Regions from separate parts of the Homo sapiens genome. Here regions 1, 2 and 4 are each linked to region 3. Evidence: fine-mapped expression QTL. A gene starts in region 3. Each other region holds a variant in brackets. All regions are shown on one strand. Distances are from middle to middle. Region 1 holds the start of MCM2 (minichromosome maintenance complex component 2). Region 2 holds the start of TPRA1 (transmembrane protein adipocyte associated 1). Region 3 holds the start of ABTB1 (ankyrin repeat and BTB domain containing 1). Region 4 overlaps PODXL2 (podocalyxin like 2).

Region 1 (4,740 bases), 75 kb after region 3:
CCAGAAGCCCCCTGCCAAGGGCCTCTCTCTTTGCTTCTCAGAGAAGCAAAGAGAAAGGGTCAAGACAGGGAGGGGAAACAGCAGAGGAGGGGCATCCGGCCTGAACAACTCCATCAGGCAGAACAGGAAAGCCGTCTAGGACCCATGCCCTGACCCCAAGTCCAGGGCAGATTTATCCAGACTCCTCATTCCTTCTACAGCCTACAGCACATGCAGTCTCATCGTTGGGGGTGGTACTGATAATAGCAAAGATGCATCCAGTCTGGAGTGCCCTTGAAAGCCTCTCAACTGTCTGACATCCTAGGGACGGCAGGATGCCCTGCACAGTACTCTCACACATGCTAAGGCTGAAAAGGCACAAAAGGAGCATCTCCACGAGGCTCCTGGGCATTCACACAATTCCGCTACTGACGTTATCTACCAGATCGCAGCTGGAAATGCAGAGTAAGGCAGGGGTAGAAATCTAGCCTTGCTTATGCGCAGAGCTTACTCCACTCTCCTAGCATTAAGTCTTGCTAACTTATTTATTTATTTATTTTTGAAACAGAGTTTCACTCTTTTCGCCCAGGCTGGAGTGCAGTGGTGTGATCTCAGCTCACTGCAACCTATGCCTCCTGGGTTGAAGTGATTCTCCTGCCTTAGCCTCCCAAGTAGCTGGGACTACAAGCACGCACCACCATGCACAGCTAATTTTTTGTATTTTTAGCAGAGACGGGGTTTCACCCTGTTGACCAGGCTGGTTTCAAACTCCTGACCTCAGGTGATCCGCCCACCTCGGCCTCCCAAAGTGCTGGGATTACAGGTGTGAGCCACCACATGTTTACTAATAAACAAGACCATTCCTAACAAAGGGCATGGTGCACATTAGGTACAATAAATGTTTGCTGATTGACTCTAAAACTTTATTTATCAGATCCCTCCTCCCCCATGCACCTTTCCTTTGAAAAGTTACTGGGAAACACTGGGCTTCCTGCTTCCTGTCTTTTTGAGTTGGAGTATTCCAGATTAGAGACCCCTACATTCTCTGGGGTGCTTATGGAGTCGGGGCTTATCCTCAGCTTAGGGTCTAGTCTTTCCAAGTTACATGCAGTAAGTTAAAGAGACCTGTGTCATGGCTCTGTAAACCTGTCTCCTCAGAACCCTGGATCAAGCTGTGCTCAAAGGCAAGAATGCCATCGATTCATCTGCTCCCAGCTCCCAAAGCCAGGCCACCAGGCACACAATGGGCTCTCTGCAAAACTATCTGCTGAGTCCAGGGCCTTGAATGAAATTACCTTTCCATGCCATCTCCAATGAGCTCCTCTCCATCCTCTTCTTCCTCCAGGGGCCCCTCTGTGCCTAGGAGCCCCTCGGACTCATCCTCAAATGGTGGAAGGTCACGGCCAGGGCTGGAGGTGAGGGCATCAGTACGCCGGGAGCTTCGGCCAGGGCTGGAGGTGAGAGGATCATTGCCTCGCCGACGCTGGGCCGGGCTGGATGCCATGGTGAAGGATTCCGATGATTCCTGCAAGAGAAGGTGCGGTTGTCAGAAACCTAGGAAGCTGGTGAGGCATGATACAGCTTCCTTTTTACCATCAGGGGCCTTCCCTTCTTTCTCTCCACCTGTGACTCTTGTCCTCCAACACACCAAACCCCTTCCAGCCTCCAGATCTTTGCCCTTGCTGTTCTCTCACCTGGAATGCTCTCAGCTGAGCAATCTGAGTCAGTGGCTTCCAAACAAATAGAAGCCAGCTCAAATATCGGGGTCACCCACATCACCGTGCTTTCTCCATGAAAAACCACTGAGGTTATGTCATTTGCCTATTTACCTGTTTACTGTCTATTATCTCCCCTTAAGCATTAGACCTATTTCAGCACACACAGTGCGCAAGGTATTGTGATAGAGATGGCATAGAAGAGCCACCAAAACAAGAGGTCTGGAACTCAGATGTGGAACAGACAGTATACAAGACAAAGGGACAAGAAGGTAATACAAAAGTAAGTGTAGTGTTTGGAACAAGGATCATTGGGAAATTAAAAAAAAAAAAAGTTTAAAGGAGTGTAGTGAAATGGGGGCCTGTCTTTTGTACGCTCAGCGCCACACAGATGGCGCCCAATAAGTATGTGTGGGGTGAATAAAGGACAGAGGCTGAACGGGCCGAGCTCGCCTTAGGGAGCCCAGGGCCCCAGGTCAGTGGTAGGTAGGCGAGTCGCCTCACGCAGGGTGCAGGCGAGAAAGTAGCTGCGCCCCAGAGCCTGGGGCCCAGCCTCACCCAGAGCGCCGCCCTGGGCCGGGGCCAGAGTACGGGAAGCGCGCAGCCTCCGCACCCATGTCCCCGGCGCCCGCCCGCCACGCGCCAGCGCGCTCACCGCCATAGCAGTACCACGATCCTCTCCGCCACTACAGCAACAACCAGGTTTCGCGCGAAAAGTGGTTCAC[G/A]TGACCCACCAAAGCCCGGGAAGAGCCCTACGGAACGCGACGTCATGACGTCGGCGTCCACTGGCGACCAGAAGGGACACGGAGGGGCGGGCCAGAGGGTCCGGTCCCGCCTACAACGCCCGAGGCGCTCCGCCCAGAGCCCGGAGGTGTGCGGCCCGGCGCTGTGCGCGTGCGCTCGCCTGCGCTGTGGTGGGAGCTGGAGCGGAGGTAGAAGCTGAGGCTCCAGGGGACCCGACGACACTTGCTGGCTGCGTGACCTCGGTCACACCAGGGCCATTTTGCTGACAAGACAACAGAGGCCGGGCGCGGTGGCTCACGCCTGTAATCCCAGCACTTTGGGAAGCCGAGGTGGGCGGATCACAAGCTCAGGAGTTCGAGACCAGCCTGACTAACATGGTGAAACCCAGTCTTTACTAAAAATACAAAAATTAGTTGGGCATGGTGGCACGGGCCTGTAATCCCAGCTACTCGGGAGGCTGAGGCAGAAGAATCGCTTGAACCTGGGAGGTGGAGGTTGCGGTGAGCCGAGATCCCGCCACTGCACTCCAGCCTGGGTGACAGAGTGAGACTCCGTCTCAAAAAAAAAAAAAGACAGCAGAGGTTCAGAGCCTGGTTTTCTGACGCTTCTTACCGTCTTAGGAGCACAATGGTTTAACTTCTCCCAAAGCTCAAAGGCTCAATACTTCAAGCAGCTGGACAACTCTGGGATTTTGTAGGAGGTCACATCTGAGGCTTTAGTAGGAGTTATCTTTGCCCAGGGGAGCGAAGACGCAGGGAGGATGTTACAGATAGAAGGATGCCATGTGCAAAGCTGCAGAGGTCATGGCAGGGCCCGGATGTGCAAGCCCCTCCCTAAGAACTAACCCTAGGAGCTTATGATGCCGGGCAACAGACAAGACTTGAGGGAGAGAAAATCCGGATCAAAAAAGAGCTAGATGTTTTTCTAGAGAGTTTGACTATTCTGTATTCTGAAAGCAATGGAAGGCCATGGAAGCATTTTGAGCAGGGTGAGACGTGAACTAGTGTGGGTTTTAGAATCCCTCTGGCTGCTACCAGGTGGAAGTGGATTGAACGAGGTTGAAGGCAGCAAACGAGGAGGTTGCTGTGGTTCTTGTCTAGTTCCAGGCAGCCTTAGTGAGCAGAGGCAGGGCTGAATCGCAACCCTCTTAGCCAGGCACTTTGTGCAGTGAACAAGCATCTCTGCCTGGGACCCAGGGTAGGGAGGCAGGAGTGATGGAGAGAACTGGAAATACAAGATGTTTAGGAGGTGGAATCTTTTTTTTTTTTTTGAGACAGAGTCACTCTGTCACCCAGGCTGGAGTGCAGTGGTGCAACCTCAGCTCACTGCAACCTCCACCTCCCAAGTTCAAGCGATTCTCGTGCCTTAGCCTCCCGAGTAGCTGGGATTAGAGATGCACGCCATTGTGCCCGGTTAATTTTTGTATTTTTAGTAGAGATGGGATTTCACCATTGTTAGCTAGGCTGGTCTCCAACTCCTGACAAGTGGATCCGCCTGCCTTGGCCTCCCATAGTGCTAGGATTACAGGCGTGAGCCACCACGCCCGGCCAGGAAGTGGGGTCTATAGGTGTTGGTGATTGAGGACAGCAAAAGAGGCATGCAGGATGACACCAGGATCCTGGCTTAGCTAGGTGGATGATAGCTGAGATAGGAGCGCACAGGAAGACCAGCAATTTAAGGGGGAAGAAGATGAGTTTGTTTCTGGCTGTGCTGAATTTGGGCCGAGGGGACATATCCAGGAAGCTGTTGGATATCCATGTATGGGACTCAAGGGCGTGTTTGGACTGAAGCTGTAGATTGCCTTGGGAGTGGTTGTATAATCCAGAGTGAGTGCAGGGAGATGAGAAGGTCTAAGCCTGGGACCTGGGAAACCCCAACAGTTAAGAGACACCAACAAAGGATGTGAAGGATGCACCTCGGATGCTAGGAGCTGCTGACAGGAAAGCTGAAGAGACTCTGCATGGGCTTGTGTTATCTATTGCTGCATAAAAAATTATCCTGGGATGGCCAGGCATGGTGGCTCACACCTGTAATCCCAGCACTTTGGGAGGCTGAGGCAGGTGGATCACCTGAGGTCAGGAGTTCAAGACCAGCCTGACCAACATGGAGAAACCCTGTCTCTATTAAAAATCCAAAATTAGCCAGGCGTAGTGGCGCATGCCTGTAATCCCAACTACTCAGGAGGCTGAGGCAGGAGAATCACTTGAACACTGGAGGTGGAGGTTGCGGTGAGCCGAAATTGTGCCATTGCACTCCAGCCTGGGCAAAAAGAGCGAAACTCTATCTCAAAAAAAAAAAAATT
Region 2 (4,740 bases), 83 kb after region 3:
GCAGGCCGGCATTGCCCAGCCTCTCTGGCGAATATAGAAGCCTAAACTTAGGTATGCACATTTGGGTGTGGTCCAGGCTGGGAAAGTCCCAGAGGATCACAAGGTGGTTTCTTCCCCAATCTCCCTGTGTTTTTAGGACAGGAGCAAGGAGAAGAATGGGACCCAATCTCATTCCAGCCCAGCGGTGCTGTCGCAAGGTGTGAGTCTTGGGGTGCCTGTAATAACTGAGTGCCTACAATCTGCACGAGGCTCTGAGTCAGCCTCAGGATGCTGCAGGGGACATCCTGCAGCTTGGCTCTCTTGGCTCCATCCTCATGACGCTGGAATTCTATAATAGGGTGGGGAGACTGGACGGGGAGGCAGGTAAATGAAAACAATCAGGTGAGAATTAAGATGCTCGGAAGGAAATGAGACTGGACAGCCGCTCCAGCGAGGGTGTCCACAAAACCCTCTAGAGGACATGATGTGGCAAGGAGCCAGCTCTGCGGGGGAACAGGTGTAGAGCCAGGAGCAGGAACAAGCTTGGAACAGCCGAGGGACAGAAACAGAGACCCGCATGGCTTGAGTATGGTGAATGCAGCATCGATGCCAGGGGATAAGACAGGCGCAATCAGGGAGGGCTTTCCAGAGGAACAGGCGTGAAGAACTGTGGAAGTTAGAGTTGGGGAGAGGCGTCCTGGCTGTGTCGCTTCCTCATTGCGCGGCTTTGGTCAAGTTATTTGACCTCTCCAAGCCTCAGGTGGCCCTGTAAAAGGTGACTATAATGACTGCCTAGCAGGGTTGCTAAGAGGAGTGCCCGAGGCATGGCGGCGCCGCGTGGAGCAGGGCGCTGGGAGGCGGCGGCCCTGCGGCGTGGCGCGGCTGGAGCGCGTGGCGCCGGGGAGGGTCCCCGACACGCCTTCCCCCAAGCTGACCCCAGGTCACCCCTGCAGGGCGCCCGAAGCGCCCGCACGCGAGGGGGCGGTCCCCGGAGGCTCCGCCCCGACGGTCCGGCCGCGGCCCAGGCCGGGAGGTGGAGCGCGGCTGCCGCCAGCTGGTCCACTGACAACTGCTGCCAGCTGGAAGGCGCGTAGGGCGAGAGGTGGCGCGTCCTCAGCTTTCCAGTCTTCGATTCCGCCCGCTTTCCGAGTGAGAAACGCAGGCCTCTCTCTTCCGTGAAGCAGCGTCTTGTCTCTGCACCTCCTCTGTGCTGTCTCTTTAAGAGGTCAGCGGGCTGCTCCGCCTCTTGGGAATTTGATTGGTCTCTCCCACTTTTTTTTTTTTTTCCCCCAGTGATGACTTATTCCTATAGGCTGCTGGAGGTTAGAGGGCGGGCCTGAGTGATAACAGGGACTCTGGGACTCTGGGACTTGTGGGACTGTGGCCGTTTTCGCAATTTGGGCTGGACGAAAAAGACGGTCTTGCTTTCCCGGTCGCCGCTGTCGGGAAGGGCTGCAGGGTGTCCGCGAGACCCGCGGCCCGGCGAGCTGACCCCGCCTCGCCTTTCCTGCCTAGCCCTCATTCCACGGAGCCGGTCGCGCCCGGTCCTTGCGCGACGCTTCCCGGCCCAGGCCGCCTGGTCTGGCGCTGGAGGCCGGAGTCCCGCGGCCTGTGCTGGATCCGCGCACACCCAGTGGCGGCGGATGGGCGGCCGGGGCGGCCGGGGCGGCCGGTCCTGAGCGCGGCCCGGGCTGTCAGGTAAGGAGGGGCCTTCTCCCCGTCTCCTGCCGCAGCTAGAGGGGGAGCCCCGTCCCTCGCCCCGGCGGGAAGCCCAGCCGCCGTTCCCCTCCTTGCTCCGCGAGCGGCCCATTTCCGCTCGGGCGCAGCTCGGACGGCCAAGGCGGCGTTTGGGAGGGAAGGCCCTGGATGTGGGAACCCACGGGAGGGGTGCCGGGCAGTCGGGAGTCGCTCGGGGCGCGGGGGCACGCGAGGCCCGGGAGGGAGCCGCACGTAGCGGCGTCGGGCTCGGCCCCGGCTGGAGGCAGTGCGGGTGGAGATCCGGACCTCGGCGACCCGGTCCGGCGCGGGGTGGCGGCACGGGCTCCAGCCCCACGGTGGCTGCCCGCAGCGGCCGAGGTGCTCCTGAGCCAAGCCTGCCGCCGGTTCGGGGCTTTGCTGCCCCGTGAGGGGGCCATGTCGAAGCCTCCGCTCCCTCTGGACTCGGGGAATGCAGGTGGGGGCTGGCTTTGCCCTCTTCTCTGCAGTGAGGAGGGGCCGCAGGGTCGTCCAGTCCCCAGCGGGGCTTGGCGGTGCTGGAGATTCAGTTGTTCCCGTCATAACAACCTGTTGAGGGCTCGTGTCGTGCCAGGCCTTGTTCTAGGGGACCGAGTCCTGAGCACTCCCGGGATAGAGAGTAGTAAATACCCAGACGCGGCTCGGGCGCTGGAGACAGCTGAGAAGGGAAGGCTTCTCAGAGGAGGTGTCAGGAGAGAGCTGGGGGAGAGCCAGCCCAAAGGCCCTGAGGAACGGACCAGCTCAGCAGGTGGAAGGCAAGCAGGGAGGGCAAGGTGCAGGTCAGATTGGGCCCAGGCCTCCCCATCTTACTGGGGTCTCCGGCTTAGGACAGGGACCACACGCCTGCCAGCCCCAAGGCCGAAGGACAACAGGGGAGAGCAAAGTAACTTACTTGGCCTCTGCCCTATGGAGCCTTCCCCACCTTGTCACCCCTGGGCTC[C/T]ACCCCTTCTCACCACCCTTAGGCCCTAGGGTTTGTAAGCTCAACAACCCGTCGGTGTGGGAAGCACTGAGGGCCCCTCTCCCCAGGGTTTCCTATCCGGTAGCTGTGGGTGGGGTTTGGTCAATCCTGTTGCACAGATGAGAGAGCAGGGAAAGCTGAGTCCCAGAGAGGAGAGAGAAGGCCTTACCCAGTCGTTCTCAGCGGGTCCTGCATTGCGTGACCATGACCTGAGCCTAGCCAGCATCCTGTCCCTCAACTGGGTGGGAGGGAGGGAGGCAGAGGCCCCTGGAATGTTGTGAGTCTGGGAGACTCCTCCCAGGTGGAAGAAACAGTCTGTCCCAGTTTCCCTGTTCCTGGGAGGCCTGGGGTTGCCCAGGGTGCTCTGCACCGCAGGAATTCCTCCTCTGAGAATCACCCCTGGGCTCCACCCCTTCTCACCACCCCTTCTCACCACCCTTAGGCCCCTATCGTGAGCTGACCAACCCCTCCCACTTCTTTGTCAGTGCTTGGGAGCATCAGTCTAAGAGAACTAAGTAGAGAAGGCTGAGGACTGACCCCTTCTCTGCCTCTCCTCTCCTCTGTATAAGGGGACAGTAATTGTCCTCTCTCCCTTAGAAGGCGATGCCATTGTTAAGTGTGTCACCACGTGTAAAGCACTGAGCACCATGTCTGCACATAGGAAGTGTGCATCCTATTAACTAAAAGTCAGTGCGGGCCAGGCGCAGTGGCTCATGCCTGTAATCGTAGCACTTTGGGAGGCTGAAGTGGGTGGATCATCTGAGGTCAGGAGTTTGAGACCAGCTTGGCCAACATGGTGAAACCCCATTTCTACTAAAAATACAAAAATTAGCCGGGTGTGGTGGTGCACACCTGTAATCCCAGCTACTCAGGAGGCTGAGGCGGGAGAATCGCTTGAATCCAGGAGGCGGAGGTTGCAGTGACCCAAGATCGCACCATTGCACTCCAGCCTAGGTGACAAAGCGAGACTCTGTCTCAAAAAAAAAAAAAAAAAAAAGTCAGTGCTTCAGTTATTTCCTAAGCTTTGATACGTAATGGCAATCCTGGTATGGCCAGCAGCCCCATAACCCCAGTGTGGTTGCTGGATCAAGTAGCAGCAGCAGGGGCACCACCTGGGAGCCTGTGGGAAACACAGACTGTTCAGCCCTACCCCTGCCCTTGGGAGCAGCATCTGCATGTTAACAACACCAGGGTATTTCCCACATCAGGTCTGAGAAGATAGCTCTAGAACAAGCCTGGTGCTCTTGACCCACAGGTGGAGAAGCCGAGGCCTGGAGAGGGGCACCTGGCAAGTTGTTGACTGGGGGCCTGGGCTCTGGAGACAGACAGCCTGGATTGCTGGCCTGGCAAGTGGCTGCCCCTCTGAGCTCCACGTGCACAATGCGGATAACATAAGTACCTCCCTCCCAGGGTTGGAGGCCAGGGCTCAGAGGTTAGGCACAGAGGTTACTACGTTGTTGGCAGGGGAGTGGGGGCAGGCAGAGCAGCTGACACCTCCTCTGTGTTTCCTCAGACCCCACAGCAATGGGGGCTTCACAAGAGGTCCATGGACCTGGGAACCAATTCCTTTCCCTCCTTGCCCTTCAGTCTCTTCTCTGGTAATCCCAGCAACTTGGGAGGCTGAGGTGGGAGAATTGCTTGAACCCGGGAGGTGGAGGTTGCAGTGAGCCGACATCGCGCCACTGCACTCCAGCCTGGACGACAGAGCAAGACTCTGTCTCAAAAAAAAAAAAAAAAAAAGAAAAGCAGCAACCACCTTTGTACATGTGTCACTTTTGTAGATGTTTACATCCCTGGTTTTGTTTGATCCTTACGGCACCCTTATTAGGCAGATGTTGTCCCCATGATACTTGGAGGGGGAGTGACTCACCCCAGGTCACACAGCAAGCACGTGGCAGAACCAGCAGTGCAGCCCCGTCTTGTTGACTCCAAAATCTGTGTTAGCTGGAGGTTTTTCACTGGTGAATTAGAGAAGTCAGACTCAAACTGGCCTAGGCAGAAAAGGGGATTTGTTGGGTTTTATAACTGAAAAGTCCAAGCGGGTAGGACTGGCTTTGGATGTGGCTGAA
Region 3 (4,356 bases):
TGCAGTGAACCGAGATCACACTACTACACTCCAGCCTGGGTGACAGAGCAAGACTCTGTCTCCAAAAAAAAAAAAAAAAAAAAGAAAAAACCAAAATAGGAAGAAGAATGGCACTGAATGAAGGGAAGTCATGAAAGGTCACTCTGTAATGGTGGCAGCATGCAGAGACCTGAATGAAGGGGGAGTGGGCCATGTGAACGTTTGCAGAACGGCAGTCCATGCAGGAGGAACTGCAGGTGCAAAGGCCCTGGGGCAGGAACAGGGGCATGCATAGCACAGTGGAGCCCCAGCGAGGCCAGTGTAGCAGCAAGCAAGCAGCAAGCAAGCAGGGAGAGCCGAAGGAATGAGGCCAGTGGGAGGGCAGACCCTGTGGAGCCTTGGGCATGGCCAGGCAGGCTCACTGTATCCTAGAGGCAATGGGAACTTGCTGGAGGATTTTTAGCCGATCAGATTCATTGTGAAAAGATCAACTTGGCTGCAATGGCAAGAGAGAGGCAGGCACCGTGTCCGGGGAGAAATGCTGATGACTGGGCCCAGGTCGTAGAAGTAGAGATGGGCAAGGTGGACAGAGAAAAGGTTTTAAAGTAGCAATAATAGTACTTGCTGATTCGACTGGGTGGTAAGAGAGGAATCGTGGTGCTTTGCAAATGTGTATCAAGGCCTTTGAATGCACGCACGCATGCATGCACCCACACGCACACATGCATGCACCCACGCACACCCGTGAGCCGGGCTCCCTGCTCTCACCATTGGCCAGAAGGTAGAGTACCAGCTCCTCGTGCCCACACAAGCAGGCATAGTACCTGAAGGGAGGAAGGAAGTACAGGAGGCAGTCCTCAGTGCTGAAGGGGTGCACCAACCCCCACCCTCCCCACCCCTCTCTCCAGCACTCACAAGGGGGTGCTGTCCCACTTGTCCCGCACATTCACCTCCACGTCTCGCTGCTCCAGCAGGTACCTGGGCAGGAAGGAGGTCAGAGCCTGGGTCAGGACGGGTTCATGGTCTGAGAAAGAAGGCCCGTGGAAAGGAACGGAGAGAAAACATCCCTTTTGGTATGGGGAAGCCTCCCCCAGGTGAGGGCAGGTGACAGGCAGACCAGAGCAGGAGAGGCACTCAAGGCAAAGTGCAGGCAAGGATGTGGAGGTGGGGTCGAACAGGCAGACACTGTGTGCTATCAGTGCTGGGGGACGATGGGCTACAGGGACAGAAGCCAGAGCCAGTGCCGAGGCTGGACCTTTGGCCTTTCAGCGTTTGGGAGAGGAGGTGATGGAGCCTTCACTCCCACCAGAGCTCTCTACTGCAGGAAGAAGCTGGCCCTGTTAGAAGCAGGGAGCCCGGGAAAAAGCTGCTGCAGGCCTCCTGATGGTGTGGAGGGCACACAATTCTAGGAGGCAGGAGTCGCGGGATACAGCAACTGATGGGATGCGGAAGGTGAGCGAGGGGAGTCGCCAATGCTAATGCAGCCCCACTGAGGCGGGGGCAGCCCAAAGGAGGCCTCCAGGCTGCACCTGGAAGTGCTGTGAACCCACTCAGCGTTGACACTATGCACTAACTCTTGAGTGGCACGGGATGTCAGGGAGCGGCCCAGGGAGGCTACGGGAGTACAGCAGCCCGGCGCCAGCCCAGGGGAGGTGGAAGCAGTCAGTCAGCACCAGGTCAAGGGGGAGGAAGGGCCAAGAAAAAAGGAGGTCAAACGGGATAGTGGAAGCCCAAGGAGGGGAAGGGCCCCAGAACCCAACTGGGCACCCCTTCCCTCCGCGTCCGGCCCATGGAGGGGGCATCTCAGCGCCAGATTCACTTTAGCTGCGTCAGGAGTTTCCGAATCCTCAGGGACCGGAGGCCGATTATGGGCTCTAGGTGTTCCCCGCGCCAGGTCCAGAGAGCACGAGAGAAAGGGGCCACGTCTGGAGTCCCAGGCCTATACCCGCGCCCTGCGCCCGGGGGGTCTGACGTCCGGGCCCTACCAGGGCGAACAGTGGCCCGCCTTCTCTCCGCCCACTTCTGCGCCTTCGGGCCTCCGCTGAGCAGTCCCTTCTTACAGGAAGCCCTCCGGGGGTCAATGGCCATCAGTGTCCCCGCCCCAGCGCGCTTCCGCTGGGGGGCTGCGGCGGGGGTCCGGGTGGTCTGCCCCGCGGGGGCGCTCCGAGGGCTGTGACCCGGCAGAGGCGCCCGCCTCTCCGCGGCCGCCCAGCCGCCCGTCCCAGGGCCCGAGGCGTTCCGAGGGCGGCCACCTCCCGCACCCTCCCCGGGACTGCGAGGTCCTCACCGCACTCGGCCCACATCCCCCTTCCTGCAGCTGGCGAACAGGTCGCTGGTGTCCATGGCGCGGAGGATGGTACCCGAGCCGAACGACCTCGGGCGGCGAAGCCGCGCACCCGGCGGATGTAAACACGCTCAGCCCCGCCCCGCCCCGCTCTGCAGCGGCGTCCGGAGGACCCGCCCGCCCCGGCCTCCCCGCCCCGCGGCCCCGCCCCTGCCCCGGGGTGCCCCGCCCGCCCCGCCCCGCCCCAACCCCGGAAATAAGAATGAGTCAAGAAGGCAGACGCGCTGGGCCCGGCGTGGTCTCCGGGCGGGTTTAATTGAGTCCCGGGGCGCAGGAAGCGCCGCCCGCCGCCCGCGGGGCCGGGGTTCAGGGGCGGGAAAGCGGGGCCAAGGCGGGCTTTGAGGCCTGCCCCTCGGGCGGGAGTGAGGGAGTTGGTCCGAAGCCGCCGTGTGAAGTCGGGGGAAGCGGGAAGGAGCCCGCGCCGAGGGCCAGGCCGCGGGGGCGGCCCGGGTAGGCGCGGGGCTGGTGCGGGCTCCGGGCCGTCCGTTTCGGGGTCCACCTCGCTTGGTCCTGGCGGCCCACTCGGCCTGCGCCTCGGCTGCGCTCACAGGTGCGTGTCCTCCTCGAACACGTCCGAGTCCTCGGGGTCCCGCTTGCCCCCCATGAGCGCCCCCCAGCTCCCCGGGCCGTTGAGGGCCCCGCCGCCGTTCAGGCTGGGGTGCTTCTCCTGCATCTCCGACTGGCTGTCGCTGGCCACGTCCAGCGTGGGGTTGTCGTGGCAGCCGTTCTCCACGAAGCGCAGCTCCTCGCCGTGCGACTGAGGCGGGGTGGGGAGAGGCCATGGGCGAGCGAGCCAGCCCCCGGACAGCGCCAGGCCCGCGGCCGTCTGTGCAACCCCACCCAGGGGGTTCCCGCGGCACCCTCCACAGGTGCCAGATCCTTCTTTTCTGTTGCTGCAGCTCAACTCCTTTCTCAAAATAAACCTACTAGTCGTTGGCACTACAAAGCCCCGTGGCCTCCCTGACGTCATCGATCCCCCAACAGCCCCCTAAGAAGACTCCACTTGCGAGGTGGGCAGGGAGCATCGCTAGGGCTCTGCTCGCTTCCTCCTGGGGAGGCCTCTAGGCTGCTGGAGCCTCTCCTTGATCCTTGGGCACCACCAACGCAGGGCCTGCCTCTGGTGAGGTATTCAGGTGCTCAGGCCCTGCAGTGCCTGCGCCGGAAAGGGGCTGGTGGTGCCAGGGAGGGGCCCCCTGGTGGGGCTAGCAGCCCCCTCACTCCCTGCACCTCTGGCACCTGTCCTGGGGCTGGTGCCCTGCAGAGCAGTCAGCAGTGCTAGGCTGACCAGCTGCTTCACCCACGGGACCCTGTGCGCCCAGGAGAGTCACTGCCTCCCCTTGCAGATGAGGACACCTATCGATGGGCACTCTCCTCTCAACTGGCCCCCAGCCCCACCTGTCCCCACACTCACCACGTGCTTGAGCTTGGGCAGCCGGCGCTGCCAGCAGTTGTAGAGCAGGCCAAGCGCAATGATGATGATGCAGATGGCCCCAATGACCACCAGCACCACGAAGAGCGTGCCGTAGTCGCTGCGCACCTGGCTGGCCCGCGCCTGGCAGCTGCTGGTTGTGGAATAGTTCTGGATGCCAATCTAGGGGTGGGAGGGGCCAGTTTCCTCAGCTGAGGTCCTGGGGTGCCATGGCTCCTCTGGGGTGGTTGCATTGGGCTCGGGTGGGGATGGGGGAGCAGGCTTAGAAGGTGCTGGCACTCCCGGCTCCTGAAGTTCCCTGGCGCCTGGGCTTGCCTCTACCCCATGCCCATCCCGTTTGCCTCAGTACACCTGGAGGCCTCTCCACCCCATGCCCATGTTCCCAGCCTCCTTCACATCCCACCATAGCTTCTGCCCCAGCCGCTGAGTCTGAGCTCACTGTGGCCCTAGGCCTCCAGTGAGAGTGGACCCATGCTGCTGGACACCATCCAACTAGAGAGAGTGCCCACACCTATCCTAACTAGTTAGAGAGACAGGAGATGTGAGCCCCCCACACATCCTCCACCATACAACCGCTTCCACCTCGGTGGGGAGGGGTGGACCA
Region 4 (4,740 bases), 36 kb after region 3:
GAGGCCCTCTGGGCCAGGCTCATCAGACCCAGCCACACAGGCACCCAGGAACGCTCCTGTGCAGACATAAAAGCCAGACAGTCAGGGGAGGCTAGAGAAGACACAAGACTGGTGCCAGGTTAGAGCATGTCTCAAATGACAAAGGTCCTGGGGAAGGGGGGACTTCAGTGGACACTCCTGAAAACCCAGAGGCTTTGCGGGGATTCTGAGACACTATTTTCATTTCAAAAAGGCCAAATTGCTTAGACTTCCCTATGGCAGGGGCAAGGGGAGACAGATGGAGACAGGCAGGGGAGAGAGAGGAATCACTGAGTCAGTGTTCCACTGCGCATGTGGTCACTCAGAAAATGCCTCCTGAGTACCCTCTCTCTGTTGGCAATTGTACTGGGTGTTGGAGCTACAAACTGAAGTGAAGACAGGGCCCATGCTTTTAAGGACCTAGCAGTATGATTGGACGAACACAGTGTTCCCCAGGCTTCCATCCTTGGCTGAAATTTCTCCAAAACTGCATTATGAATATCATTTGTATTTCAGCAATACAGTATCCTGAACATAGTCTTTAGTTTTTTTATTTTTTATTTTTTTTGAGATGGAGTCTTGCTCTGTCGCCCAGGCTGGAGTACAGTGGTGCAATCTTGGCTCACTGCAATCTCCGCCTCCCAGGTTCAAGTGATTCTCCTGCCTCAGCCCCCCAAGTAGCTGGCATTACAGGTGCCCACCACCACGCCTGGCTAATTTTTGTATTTTTAGTACAGACAGGGTTTCGCCATGTTGGTCAGGCTGGTTTTGAACTCGTGACCTCAAGTGATCTGCCCTCCTAGGCCTCCCAAAGTGCTGGCATTACAGGCGTGCGCCACTGAGCCCAGCCTCTGAACGTAGTCTTTTAAAAAACCACGTGAGGTCACAGTTCAAACTCAACCCAGTGCTGGTAATTTGACATATTTGTTTAGAATCTTGGATTCTCTCTCTCTCCTAATTTACCAAAACAAGCAAATAAATGGACAGGAAAACAAATTAAAGGAGGCCTTTTTCCTCTTCTTTCACTCTCATTCTTTAAGGACAGGAATATAGCCCTATTTGCCAGTTTCACAACTTAACCTCTAACTTAATGACCTAACCACACAAATTACTAACTTGCTGTGAGGCTCCTGGAAAGCTGCTCAAGACCTCTGGGTCTCAGTCTCCTCACCAGATAGACAAGGAAGCTAAATGAAATGACCTCTGAATTCTTTTCCAAGACTAACACTTAAGGATCTAGGGAAGAGGGAATTTCACAGTCTTCCTCTTGCTCTACACCAGATGTGTACTGTGACCTGACTTGACTACAGTACATGGCAATTTTTAGTGATGCTTATAATAAAAATAGGGCTAATATTATTGGTGCCATGTGCTTTGCTGAGCAGGCCCTAAGCTTGATACGTGCCAATACTGTGACTGGCCACTGAAAAAAATGAGCATTTCAGACTGTCCTGTGAGTCTCCGTATGAGGGAGTCTGTGCACACTGTGCAGCAGCCAGACAACTCACAGCCAATAATGCCACATCCAGCCACAGGGGTGTATTCTGGGTTGTGTGGATGGGGGATGGGAAGTAGAGACTCCAGGGTAAGAGAGACGCCCTGAGGTCAGAGACAGGAAGATGTTCTATATAACAGGAGAGAAAGCCTGGTACCAGGAAATAGGTTACACTCTGGCTTCTCTGGCTGAGTGACTTCACCACCACCAGCCTTGCTCTCCTCCTCTGTGTAATAAGGACACCAATTCCTACCATGCCTCCAGTGTGAGGGGCACCAAATGAGGTAATTGGTGAGCCATGTGTGAAAGCTGCTCTACAAAGAGCTTTACAAACCAAACTATTCTACAAATATTGTGTTATTATCCTATATAAAAAACAGAGACCTGTGAAGTTCATGGCCCGGGGAAAAAAATATTTAAAAGAGACCATGGTATCTTCAAATACATTAAAACAAAAGGTTGATGTGAATAAGAATATCAGAGTGATTCTACATGGCCTCAAAGCCAACGCCGGGGCTAAGGAGGCATCAGAGCCTTAGCATCTGACCAGGGCTAGTAAACGTCTGTGCCAACCTCTAAGATCCCGTGAAGCTCTGTCTCTCAATAAGATAATTCACAGGCCCAACTCTCAGCTTTAGAAAGTATCATCATAACTAGAGGATGGGGCTGGGTGTGGTGGCTCACACCTGTAAATCCCAGCACT[T/G]TGGGAGGCCGAGGCGGGCGGATCACTTGAGGTCAAGAGGTCGAGACAGGCCTGGCCAATGTGGCAAAACTAGTCTCTCCTAAAACACAAAAACTAGCTGGGCATGGTGGCACACGCATGTAGTCTCCAGCTACTTGGTAGGCTAAGGCAGGAGAATTGCTTGAACCCGGGAGGCAGAGATTGCAGTGAACCAAGATGGTGCCATTGCACTCCAGCCTGGGCGACAGAGTGAGACTCTGTCTCAAAAAAATAAAAATAAAAAAATACCTAAAGGGTGGGCAAGCTGTGACCCTGGGCAGGTGGGAGCCAATGGCACTGCTGTGTTGCCAGTGCTCCTGAGGACTGCTCACAGGGGATTGCCTTCTGCCAAGTCCAAACCAGGAAGCTATCACACCCCATCCGGAATGTCTTCTGCTGTCCTAGGCACCATGTCCACGGACAAAGATTCTGCTTCCAGGCAGGGCCTGGCTCCACGAAGCTGAAGTCATGTTCCCAGAGCCTGTGTCTGAATCCCTGACTCAAAGAGAGAAACAGCCATCTCATATTTTGTGGTTTCTTTGAGCCAAAGGTATTTAAAAGGCAGAGAAAGCCAAGACAATCAATTTGGGGTCCACTCCCCTTGAAGTTCCCCTTTGTTCCTGGGAGAGGATGAATTAAGGACTTGTACTCTCTCTAGCTCAAGACTTTCCCATGACCTCTTCCACTCTAATTCCCCTTCACATCACGGGGGGACCCTAAGCTACTCTTGGATTTTTTCCTAGCCCGAATATTATAGAAGAAAGCAGTATCTATCCCCTACTAGGTAGATGGGAAAGAAACAGAGTGCCCTGTCCTACCCCAAAACAGTACCTTCTTAAGGTTCTTCCTGAGAGGGGTTATCCAATGACTCCCAATTAATAACACACATCTTTGCAATGAGACTTTGTAGCTCCTCCCATCAAGAGATGAAATCTAATTCTCCACTCCTTGAATCTGAGCTACCTTTGTGAGTTGCTACACAAGACAATGCAGAAGTGATGATGTGCCATTTCCAAGGCTAGGCATCAAGATACCTTGCACGCTTCCATTCTCTCAGGATTCTGCTCAAGGCTAGCCTGCAGGAAAACAGGAGCCCATGCAGAAGAGAGCCAGATCAGCTCAGTGTCCTAGCTGAAGTCCCAAAGTGAGAGAGCCAGACAAGACCAGCAAAGGTGATAAACAGCTGATGACAAACTTGAAGGAGTTCAGCTGAGACCAGAACCACCCAGCTGACTGCAGCCTAAATTGCCAAACTACAGAATCATGAGCTAAATAAATGGCTACCGTTTTAATCCAGTGCTTTCAAACTTGAACCAGCATGGAATCACCATGAGGGCTTGTTAAAACAGAGACTGTTAAGCCCACCCTAGAGTTCTGAATCCAGCTGGTCTGTGACGGGGCCCAACAATTTGCATTTCTAGCAAGTTCCCAGGTGATGCTTCTGTCCAGGGATCAGATCTTAAGAACTGAGAATCTGAAACCACTAAATTTTGGGGTGATTTATTACACAGAAATAGCCAAATGATACATTAAGACAAATTATAAATCAAGTTCTCCTTTTGGATCAGAGTAGTGTTTGAATGGTTAAATTCCATTCATTCATCCATCCATTCATTCATTCTTCAACCAAAAAGCCTTTATTAAATGCTTATTTGGACTAGGCATGATCCAAGGCTATGTTGGTACAGAAATAAGAAAGATAGGGTCCCTGCCCCAAAAGGGTCAGTTTCTACTACAGAGACCAGCAAGAAAACAAATCATTATGGAATAGTGTAACAGTGACCATATAACTCTGTTTGAGCCACAGGGTTAGTAGGGCAGGGAGAGAGATCTCAAAGGTAGCTACTAACAGAACTGCTCATGGCACTGTACTAACTGTGCTCAGTACACTGTGAAGGAGAAAGGAGGCTGGAGGAAATAACAACACCGGGATCTCAGGAACATGTGTTCAGTTTCCCTTTCTCTAGGGTAGACAACCATGCCACTCAGGGGGGCACATGGCCGAAATGCCCCACACTTCACGATAAAGCAAAACAGCAGAGACGATACAGAAACATAGATGTGTAGACATGAGAGACGCCTCCATTAGAATTACAGTCCTCATAGTGCTTCACCGCTGGAAGAAAAAGAGAGCTCTTTTACGAACCCCTAGCAATTCCCCCTGCACTCATCTGTCCCGAACACTGCCCTCTAATCAGCGCTTCTCAGACTGAAATGTGTGTGAGTCACCCGAGTCTTCTGACACAGTAGGTGTGACTGATGCTGCTGGTCTGTGGACCACACTTTGAGTGACAAAGCTCAGAGAGGTCTTTTTATTTATTTTTTATTTTTATTTATTTTTTCAGACAGTTTCACTCTTGTCGCCCAGGCTGGAGTGCAATGGCGCGTTCTTGGCTCACTGCAACCTCCGCCTCTCAGGTTCAAGCGATTCTCCTGCCTCAGCCTCCCGAGTAGCTGGGATTACAGGCACCTGCCACCACGCCCAGCTAATTTTTTTTTTATTTTT

What was found. PIP is the estimated chance that this variant, and not a neighbour inherited with it, causes the effect.
Region 1: its variant is fine-mapped to the expression of ABTB1 in whole blood (INTERVAL, PIP above 0.99).
Region 2: its variant is fine-mapped to the expression of ABTB1 in whole blood (INTERVAL, PIP above 0.99).
Region 4: its variant is fine-mapped to the expression of ABTB1 in transverse colon (GTEx, PIP 0.95).

Annotation. Positions count from the first base shown.
Region 1 is chr3:127,596,082-127,600,821 of GRCh38, reverse strand. It overlaps MCM2 (minichromosome maintenance complex component 2), which reads right to left and starts at 2,411. Exons shown (of 16, transcript NM_004526.4): 1 at 2,350-2,411; 2 at 1,275-1,504. The coding sequence starts at 2,355. It also overlaps a transcript of TPRA1 not described here. RefSeq lists a silencer at 2,113-2,272 and enhancers at 2,303-2,422, 1,776-2,733. The variant G/A (reference allele first, on the strand shown) is at 2,420.
Region 2 is chr3:127,587,347-127,592,086 of GRCh38, reverse strand. TPRA1 (transmembrane protein adipocyte associated 1) reads left to right here and starts at 1,354. Exons shown (of 11, transcript NM_001136053.4): 1 at 1,354-1,677. RefSeq lists silencers at 702-1,031, 1,532-2,001 and enhancers at 1,735-2,411, 2,412-3,089. The variant C/T (reference allele first, on the strand shown) is at 2,654.
Region 3 is chr3:127,670,992-127,675,347 of GRCh38, reverse strand. ABTB1 (ankyrin repeat and BTB domain containing 1) reads right to left here and starts at 2,396. Exons shown (of 12, transcript NM_172027.3): 1 at 2,267-2,396; 2 at 895-957; 3 at 748-803. The coding sequence starts at 2,322. It overlaps PODXL2 (podocalyxin like 2), which reads right to left. Exons shown (of 8, transcript NM_015720.4): 7 at 3,735-3,914; 8 at 2,546-3,080. The coding sequence ends at 2,868. RefSeq lists silencers at 2,025-2,284, 2,425-3,024, 3,035-3,114.
Region 4 is chr3:127,634,561-127,639,300 of GRCh38, reverse strand. It overlaps PODXL2 (podocalyxin like 2), which reads right to left. Exons shown (of 8, transcript NM_015720.4): 2 at 1-56. Among named protein-coding and RNA genes, the nearest start is that of PODXL2, 7.7 kb to the right of the region's middle. RefSeq lists an enhancer at 1-456. The variant T/G (reference allele first, on the strand shown) is at 2,217.